2 separate regions of the Homo sapiens genome follow, and region 1 is linked to region 2. The links come from fine-mapping of genetic effects on gene expression. A gene starts in region 2. The other region holds a variant in brackets. All regions are shown on one strand. Distances are between the middles of the regions.

Region 1 (5,387 bases), 180 kb before region 2:
TACTGCCAGTAATTTATCTTTCTTCTAGGGAGAACTATTTGTGTGTGTCTGTTTATGTGTGTGTGCATTTCATACATATATGTATAAATACGTATATATGTGAAATTCAAAGGTAAAATTCCTAACAACTTCAAAATGCATAATGACAATAAATGATCAAGACCCCGACATGAGTAGAATGAAGAAAGATTGGCAGAGTCCAGAAATAAGGTTAAGTATCTATTTAGATGATATTTTTAATAGCCAGATAAAGAGGTGGAAAGGGGAACATATTTAACACTTTGTCTGTATGAATAACCAATGTTACTTGTTTAAGAATGACTTAAAATTGTGAAATGAAAGATAATTCTAAAACAATTTTTACTGCTTCATTACATACAACAAACTACATTATACACAGAAAAAAATATACATTTTTTTCAATAGAAACATCACCTGTTCACTCTAAATAAAAGTTGAAAAGATATGTAAGAATTATCAGTTTGAAAGCATGTTATGCCATTAGCCTTCTTGGGTTACCAACAAGGATCATGAAGTCGCCTGACAGAGAGGTGACCTATGTCATATGCCTGTATTATCTAAGTCGCTGTAAGCCCACAAGACTTATGTCCTTCTATTTTACTCAGCCCTCAACTGCCTGTAGGTATATACAAATGAAGTCTGATGACAGTGAATCAGGGCAACCTTTAAGAAAAAAAGAGAAGTCAGAGAAAGATGACAGGCAGCCTGAGGGTTGTTGTGTATGAAAGAGAGAAAGAGGTCTTTTGCAAGAGGGGAAAGGAGGGAAAAATCTCAGAAGCTGATTAGATAAAAATGCCTATAAATTCATGTCTATTATATATCAAAGAATGGAATGTACTAGGTGCGACTTTTACAACAACTCTTCAGGGAAAATATTACAAACCCCATTTTAGGGATAATAAAATAGGCTCAGACCAACAACTTAAAATGTAATAAATAACTAGTCACTAAGTTTAGGCAAGGATTCAAACACATGTCTGTTTGACCCCAAATATCTTCTTCCCCCTCTCATCAAAACAAATTGTCTTTCTATACTTTTAGTTGCCTATTTTAAAAGATGGGGTTTGGGTGGTGTGTGATAGTATTATGGCCAAATATCTGGGGGTGTCTCTAGCTTTTCCTGCCCATTACTCCTCTCTGCAGAAAAATAGGAATTGAAGTACTACTTAACTAGTAACTATGCAAGTAGCTAATACAGAGCTCTGATGGAGAAAATATTTCCAAACTATTCATCTGACAATGGTCCAATATCCAGCATCTATAAGAAACTTAAACAAATTTACAAGAGAAAAAACAAACAACCCCGTTAAAAAATGGGCAAAGGACATGAACAGACACTTCTCAAAAGAAGACATACATGTGGCCAACAAGCAAGAAAATAAAAGCTCTATATTACTGACCATTAAAGAAGTGCAAATCAAAACCACAATGAGTTGTTATTACAAACACTTATACACTGTTGGTGGGAGTGTAAATTAATTCAACCATTGTAGAAAGCAGTATGGTGAATTCCTCAAAGAGCTTAAAGTATACTACCATTTGACCCAGCAACCCCATTACTGGGTATATACCCACAGGAATATAAATAGTAAATCATTCTGCCATAAAGACACATGCACATGAATGTTTATTGCAGCACTATTCACAATAGCAAAGACATGGAATCAACCTAAATGCCCATCAATGACAGATTAGATAAAGAAAATGTGGTACCTATACTCCATGGAATACTATGCAGTCATTAGAAAGAATGAGATCATGTCTTTTGTGGGAACATGGATGGGGCTGGAGGCTATTTTCCTTAGCAAATTAATGCAGGAACAGAAAACCAAATACCACATGTTCTTATTTATAAGTGGGAGCTAAATGATAAGAACTAATGAACACAAAGAAAGAAACAACAGACTCTGGGGTCTACTCTAGTGGAGAGGGTGAGAGAAGAGAGAGGAGCAGAAAAGATAACTGGGTACCCAAAAGTACCCAAAAGATTGGGTACTGGGGTTAATACCTGGGTGATGAGATAATCTGTACAACAAACCCCCATGACATGTGTTTATGTAACAAACCTTCATATGTACCATCAAACCTAAAATAAAACTTAAAAAGAAAAAAAAAAACACTATTTGAAGAAACTAACAAACATCCAAGTCTGTATCTAAGATCAAGTAGATTTTAGGGGGAGAAAGAGACAGAGAGACAGAGAATACAAGAATGAGGCTGCCTCTTAATCAAGCTCCCTGAGACCCTAAGACCACTTGCCCACTCTGCTGCATAAAACCAGGAAGATAATAATAAATAGGCATAACTTTGTAATATTAAGGAATGATAACCCTGGCAACTGACAGTATCAAGATCCCAGGCCTGGGATAGCAACTCCTTCTTCCTCTCATGGGAGCATCTAGCAACAAAGTAAGGAACTAGAAGTGGGGATGATCTGGGAAGACAGGAATAAAATTGCCTTCCCTATCAAGTGTACACTGTAAACATTCTCTTCCCCCACAAGCCATTGGGCTTACCTCCTGCTTCTCTATCTGTTTCTCCTGACTACATCTTTCTGCCTTAAACTCAAAAGCAGAAAAGATTTCAAATGATACAGGTCCTACAGAAACGGTCCTGATTAGCTTTCCTAGGATATAGGAAACCATGCTGACCATGCTTGGCAGATGTCCCCACTTCTCTTTCTCTGCTACGACATACATCAATCTCTTCCTTTCTTTAATCACCTTCCACCTAGGTTTAAAGGTCCCAGAACCTATAGAGATCAAGAGAACATGATGATGCTGCCTGCTAGTGGACCTCTGCTCCCGCCTCCCTGGGAGAGCCTGCCTGTGACTCTGCACATGCCTGCAAGTTTTTGCTTGGAGCATGTGGGAAAAGGAGAACCAGGTAAATGTCCAAATATTAATCAGGACAGGGGCAGGGTAAGGCTGAACCTCAGTTTGCTTACAATGCAAAGTGCTCTCAGCTTGCCTTCAGAAAAAGTGTGTGCCCCAGAACAGGATTGAAAGTAGACAAAGGGCTGAGTCTTGCTTAAAAGGGAGAAAATAAAATTAAGTTTTAATGTGCCATTTCTAAGTATAGTTATTGAGTTTTTAAATCTGATTTCACTTACCTCCTTAGACAGAAGAATATGCTGCATTGTTATGATAACAATTCAGGTTCAGACTAACTTAA[C/T]GAAAAATAAATTTTCAAAAACTTTCCGCATAATAATTCACCAGGATCCTGAAATGTTCACCATGTTATTTCCGTTGCTTTACCCTTTCGAATATCCACTGTCAGATCATCTAGCTATTAAGAATTTGCTTCCTAAATATTCACTCATCTGAAACATACATGCTGAGTTAAATCAGTCCTCAAAAAGGAATGAGGAAAATAAATAGAAAAAGCCAGAACACCATAAAGTTTTCCATAAAATGAACATTATCTTTTAAAATAAATTTTGTATGCTATGAAAGAATATTAAACAGTAGTTCACAATAAAGAAAGAAATTAGCTTTGTGGAAAAAGGGACCATAACTCAATGACCTCCTTTGTCATTTTCTAACAAAATCTTTGAGTATTATAGATATTTTTTACTCTAAAACATGTCCTCAATTGAACCCCAAACTATCCTGAAGCCACTTTTCACATTACTTAAAAGTTCACTAATTAGAAATAGATTAAATGCAGAATATAAATGAAGTCATTGGACATTTTTGATGCATGCATTTTCATATATTCATTCAATAACAAAATATTACATAACACTGTAAAGGGGCCAACTCTACTGAAATTCAAGGACCCTATGAAACAAAGCCCATGTCCTCATAGAATGTGAGGATATATCTTAAAGCATTACATGAATTTCAAGGGCAGCCATAGAGTGGCTGAAAATAAGGCCCCTGCCTTACACATTGGGTCTGTTCCCTTAGCGCTGTTTCAGAACTCTGCGTGCACAAAAGTGCCCCTGCTGTGTTTGCCCATGAACCTGAGCATCCCAAAAGCACACAACTAAGGCTTCTAAATTGCTTTAAAGTTCAATATACTCTTCCAACCTTTTTGGCAGTATTTTATTTAGCAAACCTTATAAGAAACATTTAAATTAAATCTGAATTACTTCTGAATCATCATAAATTTCAAGAAATTTATTTAAAAATGAAGTTCTGAACATGGACATGGCATATTCTAATACCAGGCCCATCTATAAATGTGATACCTGGGCTACACCTTCTGCACCCATTTCATTGGACCCTATGAAGTTACATGAAAATGTTAACAATAGACCGTGCCCTGCAAATAATTTTAAGCACAGTTAAATGGGTCTTTTCCAAATTAAAGGGTGTAAATTAAGAAAATCATAGAAAAATAAAAATAGATTTTTCTGTGCTTATGTGTACTTTCTTTGCTAACCGTAAACGTTCAGGAAATTAGGGTAAATTGGCAAATGCTTTCATCAATAGAAACTTCTGTGCTAGAGCACTTCTGCCCATTGTCTTATTACGAATTTTTAAACAGAAGCAATATATCTGCATTTTTTTCTTTCATCGCTCTCATCTCCAAGCAGACCAAAAATAAAGGGCTTGTGAAGTTCCTGCTAATCCACCTTATAAATTAACACATGCATAAAGCTAGAGAGAAGACTGGCTGTTATCAGTTTGACAGTATCTAGTTATCACTTCTTTGAAAGTGTAGGTGCATATAATTAACACTCAATAAGAACATTATATTCAAAAATAACACAATCTACATGTGCTGAAGAACAAGTGAATTTATTCTTATAAAACGTTGGTATAGTGATTGAAATAAAATACTTCTTTTTATTTGAAAAGATTTTTGCTATCCACATACCCAAAGGATAAGGGAATTAGCAAAGGGTGACAGCAATTAATGCTCCAACATCCAACATTGTGGGAATTTACATGAGAGATAAAGTTTTTCATAATATTTTCTGGTTTTCTCTTTGCCGTGGAATTCAAATGTAGGATACGAGTTCAAGTTTCAGAGTTTCCAAAAGTTTTACAACCCTTGTTAAACAATGGTTAAGTAAGATTCCTCTATACATACTGTGCTTTAGGCATATAGTCTGATTATCTTGGGTGCCATCAAGTTCACTGAGTCACAAGTCTGGCCATGGTAGAGAAAGCTGGAGGTTCACAAAAGAAATGAGTTCTCCTCCTTTGAGCATAAAACTGTCCCTGAAATAGGACTATCTAGTCAGAGTCTACATCTCCCACAGCCCCTTGAGCCTAGGTGCACAATTAGGCTAAGTTCTAGTTGATGAATCTAAGAGAAAGAGATGTGCCTCACTTTGCATGCACTCCTACATTCACTTTTCTATGTCTGCTAGCTGGAAACAGAGGACTCTAATGCCCTGGTGGAGGACAGAG
Region 2 (5,387 bases):
GCTCTTTCAGGATGTTTCATTTAAGCAAGCACTAAAGAAACTATGCTAAACATTAACATGTAGTAAAGTTAAATATTAAAATATAAGGAATTAATACTTTGAGTCTTAAAAAAGTAATGAATTTTTGTTCAAAAAGAGATACGCAGTTCATGATTAAAAATCAAGCTTCAGAAGCATAAGTCAGTTATTATAAAGTTATAATATCACAGCAGATAGTTTTTTCCAAAAGCAAAATCTGAAATTATAATGTGTAATCCTATATCATTTATGTTTGTTCTGAAAATTCTGTTCCCTTTATAAAGTATATGTTTTCAATAATGATAACCATATAATCACTTCACTATGGATGCTGTCAATTTCTATAATCAGACCTCACGCCAGTAACTGAATATTATGGAAATATTAAAAAAACATGGAGCCATGCCTATGGCTTCTTGAAAGTCATTTGAGTTGAAGAAATATGAATACAGAAATACCAGCAAGATTGTCTTCTTCTGCCAGCTTATACATGTGAATTGTCCTAGATGTTAATTTATAACCAGGGCTTCAGCTTTTTCATAAACCTACTGGGGGACTTAAGAGTAGCTGAGCTCAGAAATCCCCTTTTATTAAAAAATGTATATAACCTAAGGTGAAGAGAGTCTAGAAAATCTTTATATAAAAAATTTTTGAAAATTCACATCCATAAGTCTCTGGAAAAATCAAAGCTTTTAACCTTAGGTTAATCTATTGCATTTTAGAAAGACATTATAAACCTAATATCTGCTATCCATTCATTAGTATTTTATAACTGATCTAACTTTAATTCTAATATGTAAGTTCATTGTGTTAGAAGAAAAAAGACTAGAAACCAAAACTCAAATCCAAGTGGTCACCAGTGTTATTTCTCATAAAACAAGATAATTCTTGGGGGAGTGAGGGAATCTGGATGATTTTAGCCTATAAAGTAAGAAGAAAATACATTATTTAAATTACTTACTTTTTCTTTGTAACTAAGGTACTCCAGAAGTAAAAATATAAGTTTCTGATATACTGAGGGAGATGACTGCATTAATCCTACATTCACAGGAAAGTTTTGGATATGTAAGAAGGGGTACAAGAGGACAAAGAAAATCTTCAACTGTTAAAGAAAGATAAAGCTTTGAAGTCCTATTTGTGGAATAGTAACTTCTTTTTGCCAATCACTCACACTGAATTAACTCATTACACCTGGAAAGTCATAGCCAGTCACTGAAGGGCAATATAACACCTTGGACAAATAAGCCTTCCAAACGCAAACTCAAAATATGAGGGCAAACAAGTATTCAAGTCAAATCTACTGCTGGACACTTTGCATGGAAAGTTTGATACCCTTTCAGCTCCTATTATCCTCAGATATTCTATGGGGTACAATTTTCCTACACTATAATTGTAAGGAAATGAGGATAAAAGGCAATGCCTGGGTGGGCAGTACTGAGAAGGGTAAACTCCGTTCCCCACAGTGCTAGAAATAAACAGGAACAATACTATGATCCCAGGAGCACATCATGCATTGCCCTGACTTTCTCAGTACCCTTCTTTCCCAAATATAATGCCTACCTTCCGTGTGGACTGCAGAGACATAGGTCCAATTGTAACGTTTGACTATGTCAAGCATGGCCCTTGCCTGCAAAGTGTCAGAAGGGACAACCCTCAGGAAGTATTTGTACAAAGTTTTGTCACTCAGGTCGATGCTTGTGGCTGAATAAGCGATCTGGGGGATGTCGAAGAGCTGGAGCAGGTTCTGCACTTGAATGGCTACAGAGCTGGAGCCGGGACCGATCACTCCCGCAATGGGCTTCTTAGTCCTGCCTGGGGGGAGGGACTGGCCGTCAGGCAGACACCGGTTGATCCCATCCTTCTCATCTCGAATGGAAATCAGAGAGTCCCTAATGAACTCAATGCTCTGTTCCAGAGCCACGGAAGAGTGCCAGCAGGAGTCCCGGATCTCACTGCCCAGGGTGATGTTGGGCAGGAGGACCGGGTCCGCGTTGATCTTATCCAACGTGTGGAACATGGCCTCCACCCTCTGGATGCCATACTGCTCCCTGATCTCCCCACACTTCCTCTCGGGCACTTTCTCGGCCGGAGGCTGGTGATGGACTGAGAAGAGGGCTCCAATGATGACATCTCCGTCCATTCTGGCCACCGAGCGCTGAGACGACGCTCCTGCCAGCAACACTTTCCTGCCGGGGCTTCTGGGGAGAAGGGACACCTCCAAAAAGATCGCTGGGAAAAAAAACAAAAGGAGCCCGACCATGGTGGTGAGGACGAGGTCCACAGCCTGCCAGCCGCGTTCCCACGCTGGTCCCGCTGCAGGCTCCCGGCGCGCACCCCCAAGACGCCCAGCGCCGCCTCTCCCGGAGTGGTGCCCCTCGCCAACAATGGTCGTCCAAGGCCTTTGCCTCCTCCACCACCGCCTCCTTCCCCTTCGTCTCCTCCTCTGGGTCCTCCACGACCGCCTCTACAAGCTGGAGGCGTTTGTAAGGGAATTCGAGTCCCCGTTCTTCACCGGTAGTGCATCAAGGTAAATTGATCAAGAGTACAGTGGAAGTCGTGTTGGCAGCGGTGAGCTAGATGCTGCTGACAAAAGACAGAGAAAAATCACAACCTTGTCATCAGAGGACCTGTGTTAAAACTCTGGGGTCTATAATGTTAACAGTTGCCTTGTCCGTTTCATTTCGGCACATCCTGATATCGGCTGCAGGAACAGCTTGGAGCGCAGCTGTGGTCACTGAGGAAGGCGGGGTGTCCTGCCCCCTCTGTCCTCACGGGTCCAGGCGGCGCAGAGCCCCGCCAACTCGCCCGCTCCTCCAACCTTAAGTCGTTTCCTGGTCCCCTAAAACCTATCATGCTTTCTAACTTGGAGGGCGGTGGGGAAGGTGAGCAGAGAGGAGGGGAGGAGCTAGGTCCTTCAACCCAAGAGAACTTTCCGGATTGGAAAAGATCAACTTTTTTTCAGAAGAAAATTTGGAAACTCATTGTAAAGGTGGAAGCGCGACTTTAAAATAAACGTAAACAAAGGATGCACCTTTTACTTTAATTTTGAGGGGTTGAAGAAGCCCTGACATAAAATCAGCTGTAAATATAAATTTGCCAGCTTGAAGAAAATCCACATTAGTTACTAAGGCAACGCCTGGTAAAGTCTCCGTATGGAGGAGTTTGGTATGTTTCCCCCGTAAGAAGTCAGGCTTGCTGTGTATGTTCAAGAAGAAGGGGTGCAGATAAGGTAACTTGTTTCCCGCGGTGGGTGGACGGGTTAGGGGGGGTCCTGCGCTTGCTTTGGGGTTTGCATAGTTGCTAGAAAGGGAACGGAGGGGAGCTTCCGGGTTGCTCTCGCCGCGGCAGCCTGAGCCCTGCCGCCTTCAGGACCCTGGACAGTGCTCGGTCCAGCCAGACATTCCCTGGCAGGGCCTGCAAGGGACGCTTTGACCAGTGAGTTGCAATTCCCTGACCCGCTTTGCTCTTTCAACCTCCCTCCTCTGAGTTCTTTACCCATACACACACACACACACACACACACACACACACACACACACACACACTCCCTTCCACTCGAGTCCCCACCGCCCCTCCGCCCTCATTCTCATCACCTTGCACCGCTTGTGCAGGTATATATCCAAACCCACCCGCTTGGGGACAGAGGCGCCAAATCTCAGCCGCCTGCGGGGCTGAAGTTGGCTCCCTCTCCCGTTCCTCCCCTGCTCCTTTTCTCAAGGTGAGAGTCGACGAAAAGGGGGCTATGGGAGCGGGCGAGGAGAGCACAGGAGGTGAGGCAGAAAAAGGAGAAAGAAAACCCAGGCACCCATTGGTCCCGACTCTTCCTGAGGATACAGGACGAAAAGAAATACATAAGCGAGAATGCGCCTGGGACCCGGAGGAAAATCTGATAGACTGGGACTTTGTCTGCCGTTGTGGGTGGGTTTCACCGGAGGAAGTGTCCGCTCACCTGAGTCTGTTTGGAGGACATGGACTTGAGACATACCTGAGTACCTGAGTCGGGGTAGACAGCGCTATGGTCCCGGGGCCAGAGGACCGTGGCCACGCTCGGCTTGCAGACGCCTCAGCTCTAATCCAGACGGTGCAAGGATGCGATCTGGGCTGTACACTAGTGCCCTCTTTCTTCAGCACTATTTTACCGCAAGGGAAAAAGAGGGGGAGGGAAGAAAAAAAAAAACAGGTCACCCAAGGCTTGTCTATTATCTCATGTATAAAAATCAGTCGTTTGATAGAGGGAGGAGGGGAGACAAACTAGGAGGAAGTGGGGAATATTAATTCCTTTACTATATGAGGGGTCGTATAGAAGCTGCCAGATACGTGAATAGTCAGACAATCTGGCCAAAGAAGTGGAGAACTGCCTAGGCTGCTTTGGGGTAGATATCTTTGTATATATATCTCAGGGACTCAAATATATTTTCTCTTTCTGCGAGTAAAGTCCCTACAGAGGGAAACAGAGTGTAAACACATGTACAGACATCTAAAGAAAGGCTCTATTAGTAGATTGCAAGGGAAATCAGGAAGAGGCTGCATAGGGTGGGAGAAGGGAAAGGACAGGCATGCCCATTATGAATTAAGGTATGCCAAATGAAGAGAGACATATTGTGGCTGCATTTTCAGGTCAAGATGTAACTAAATTGAGAATGAGAGTCAGGTCACATGAAAATACTGGAGTGACAAATACTTATCCAAATTCCTCCCAGGCGGCCATCACCTTCCCTACAGGTCTATGGTGTTGCTTCTGACTGTGTGAAAAGCGGAAGTTAAATCACATTCCTCTGGGAACATGTTGGCTGAGCAGAATGTGGCCCGGCTTTTTCAGGGGAAAAGACAAGTGACAGTGTGTCTTTCTACTCTTGTTCAAAGCTTTCTATTTGTGTCATCTGCAGAGCAGAGAGATCAGCTTACGTTGGTCCCTTATGGGTCAGCTTATAATCGCCTTGCTCAGGTCATTATTATATTATGGAATGGTGCCATGTCAGACTGGAGGGGACAAACCACATGAGGCAGTTTCAAATACTCTTCAGTGTGTTCCATGAAACTTAGGAAGGAAAACAATACCTCTAGTCAATAACAAAAGGTCTTTCTCATTCTGGTTCTGATCTTTTTTTCCCTAAGTGTCAGAGTTTTCTGGATTTTTTTTTTTTAGACAGCCCAAAGAGAATATATTTTTTTCTTTTTCCACAAATAATGCACTAAACAACGTTCACATTTTTTAGACTAAATGATCTCAATTCGGGAAGTAGCCACATGTTTACATAAGGAAAATGGGAAGAGGTAAGTTCTGATCATCACATATGGGACTAAATGGCTCTCTGCTTCTACCCTAGGAATATGTCTGTTCGAAGAACAGCAAGCCACAGGTATGCACA

Evidence for each region. PIP is the estimated chance that this variant, and not a neighbour inherited with it, causes the effect.
Region 1: its variant is the best candidate, but not a certain one, in a credible set for the expression of GRM1 in left ventricle (GTEx, PIP 0.86).

The regions. Positions count from the first base shown.
Region 1 is chr6:146,203,371-146,208,757 of GRCh38, reverse strand. The region is part of intron 2 of GRM1 (glutamate metabotropic receptor 1); the gene reads right to left. Among named protein-coding and RNA genes, the nearest start is that of GRM1, 180 kb to the right of the region's middle. The variant C/T (reference allele first, on the strand shown) is at 3,196.
Region 2 is chr6:146,026,409-146,031,795 of GRCh38, reverse strand. It overlaps GRM1 (glutamate metabotropic receptor 1), which reads right to left and starts at 2,734. Exons shown (of 8, transcript NM_001278064.2): 1 at 1,579-2,734. The coding sequence starts at 2,278. RefSeq lists enhancers at 1,915-2,415, 2,416-2,916.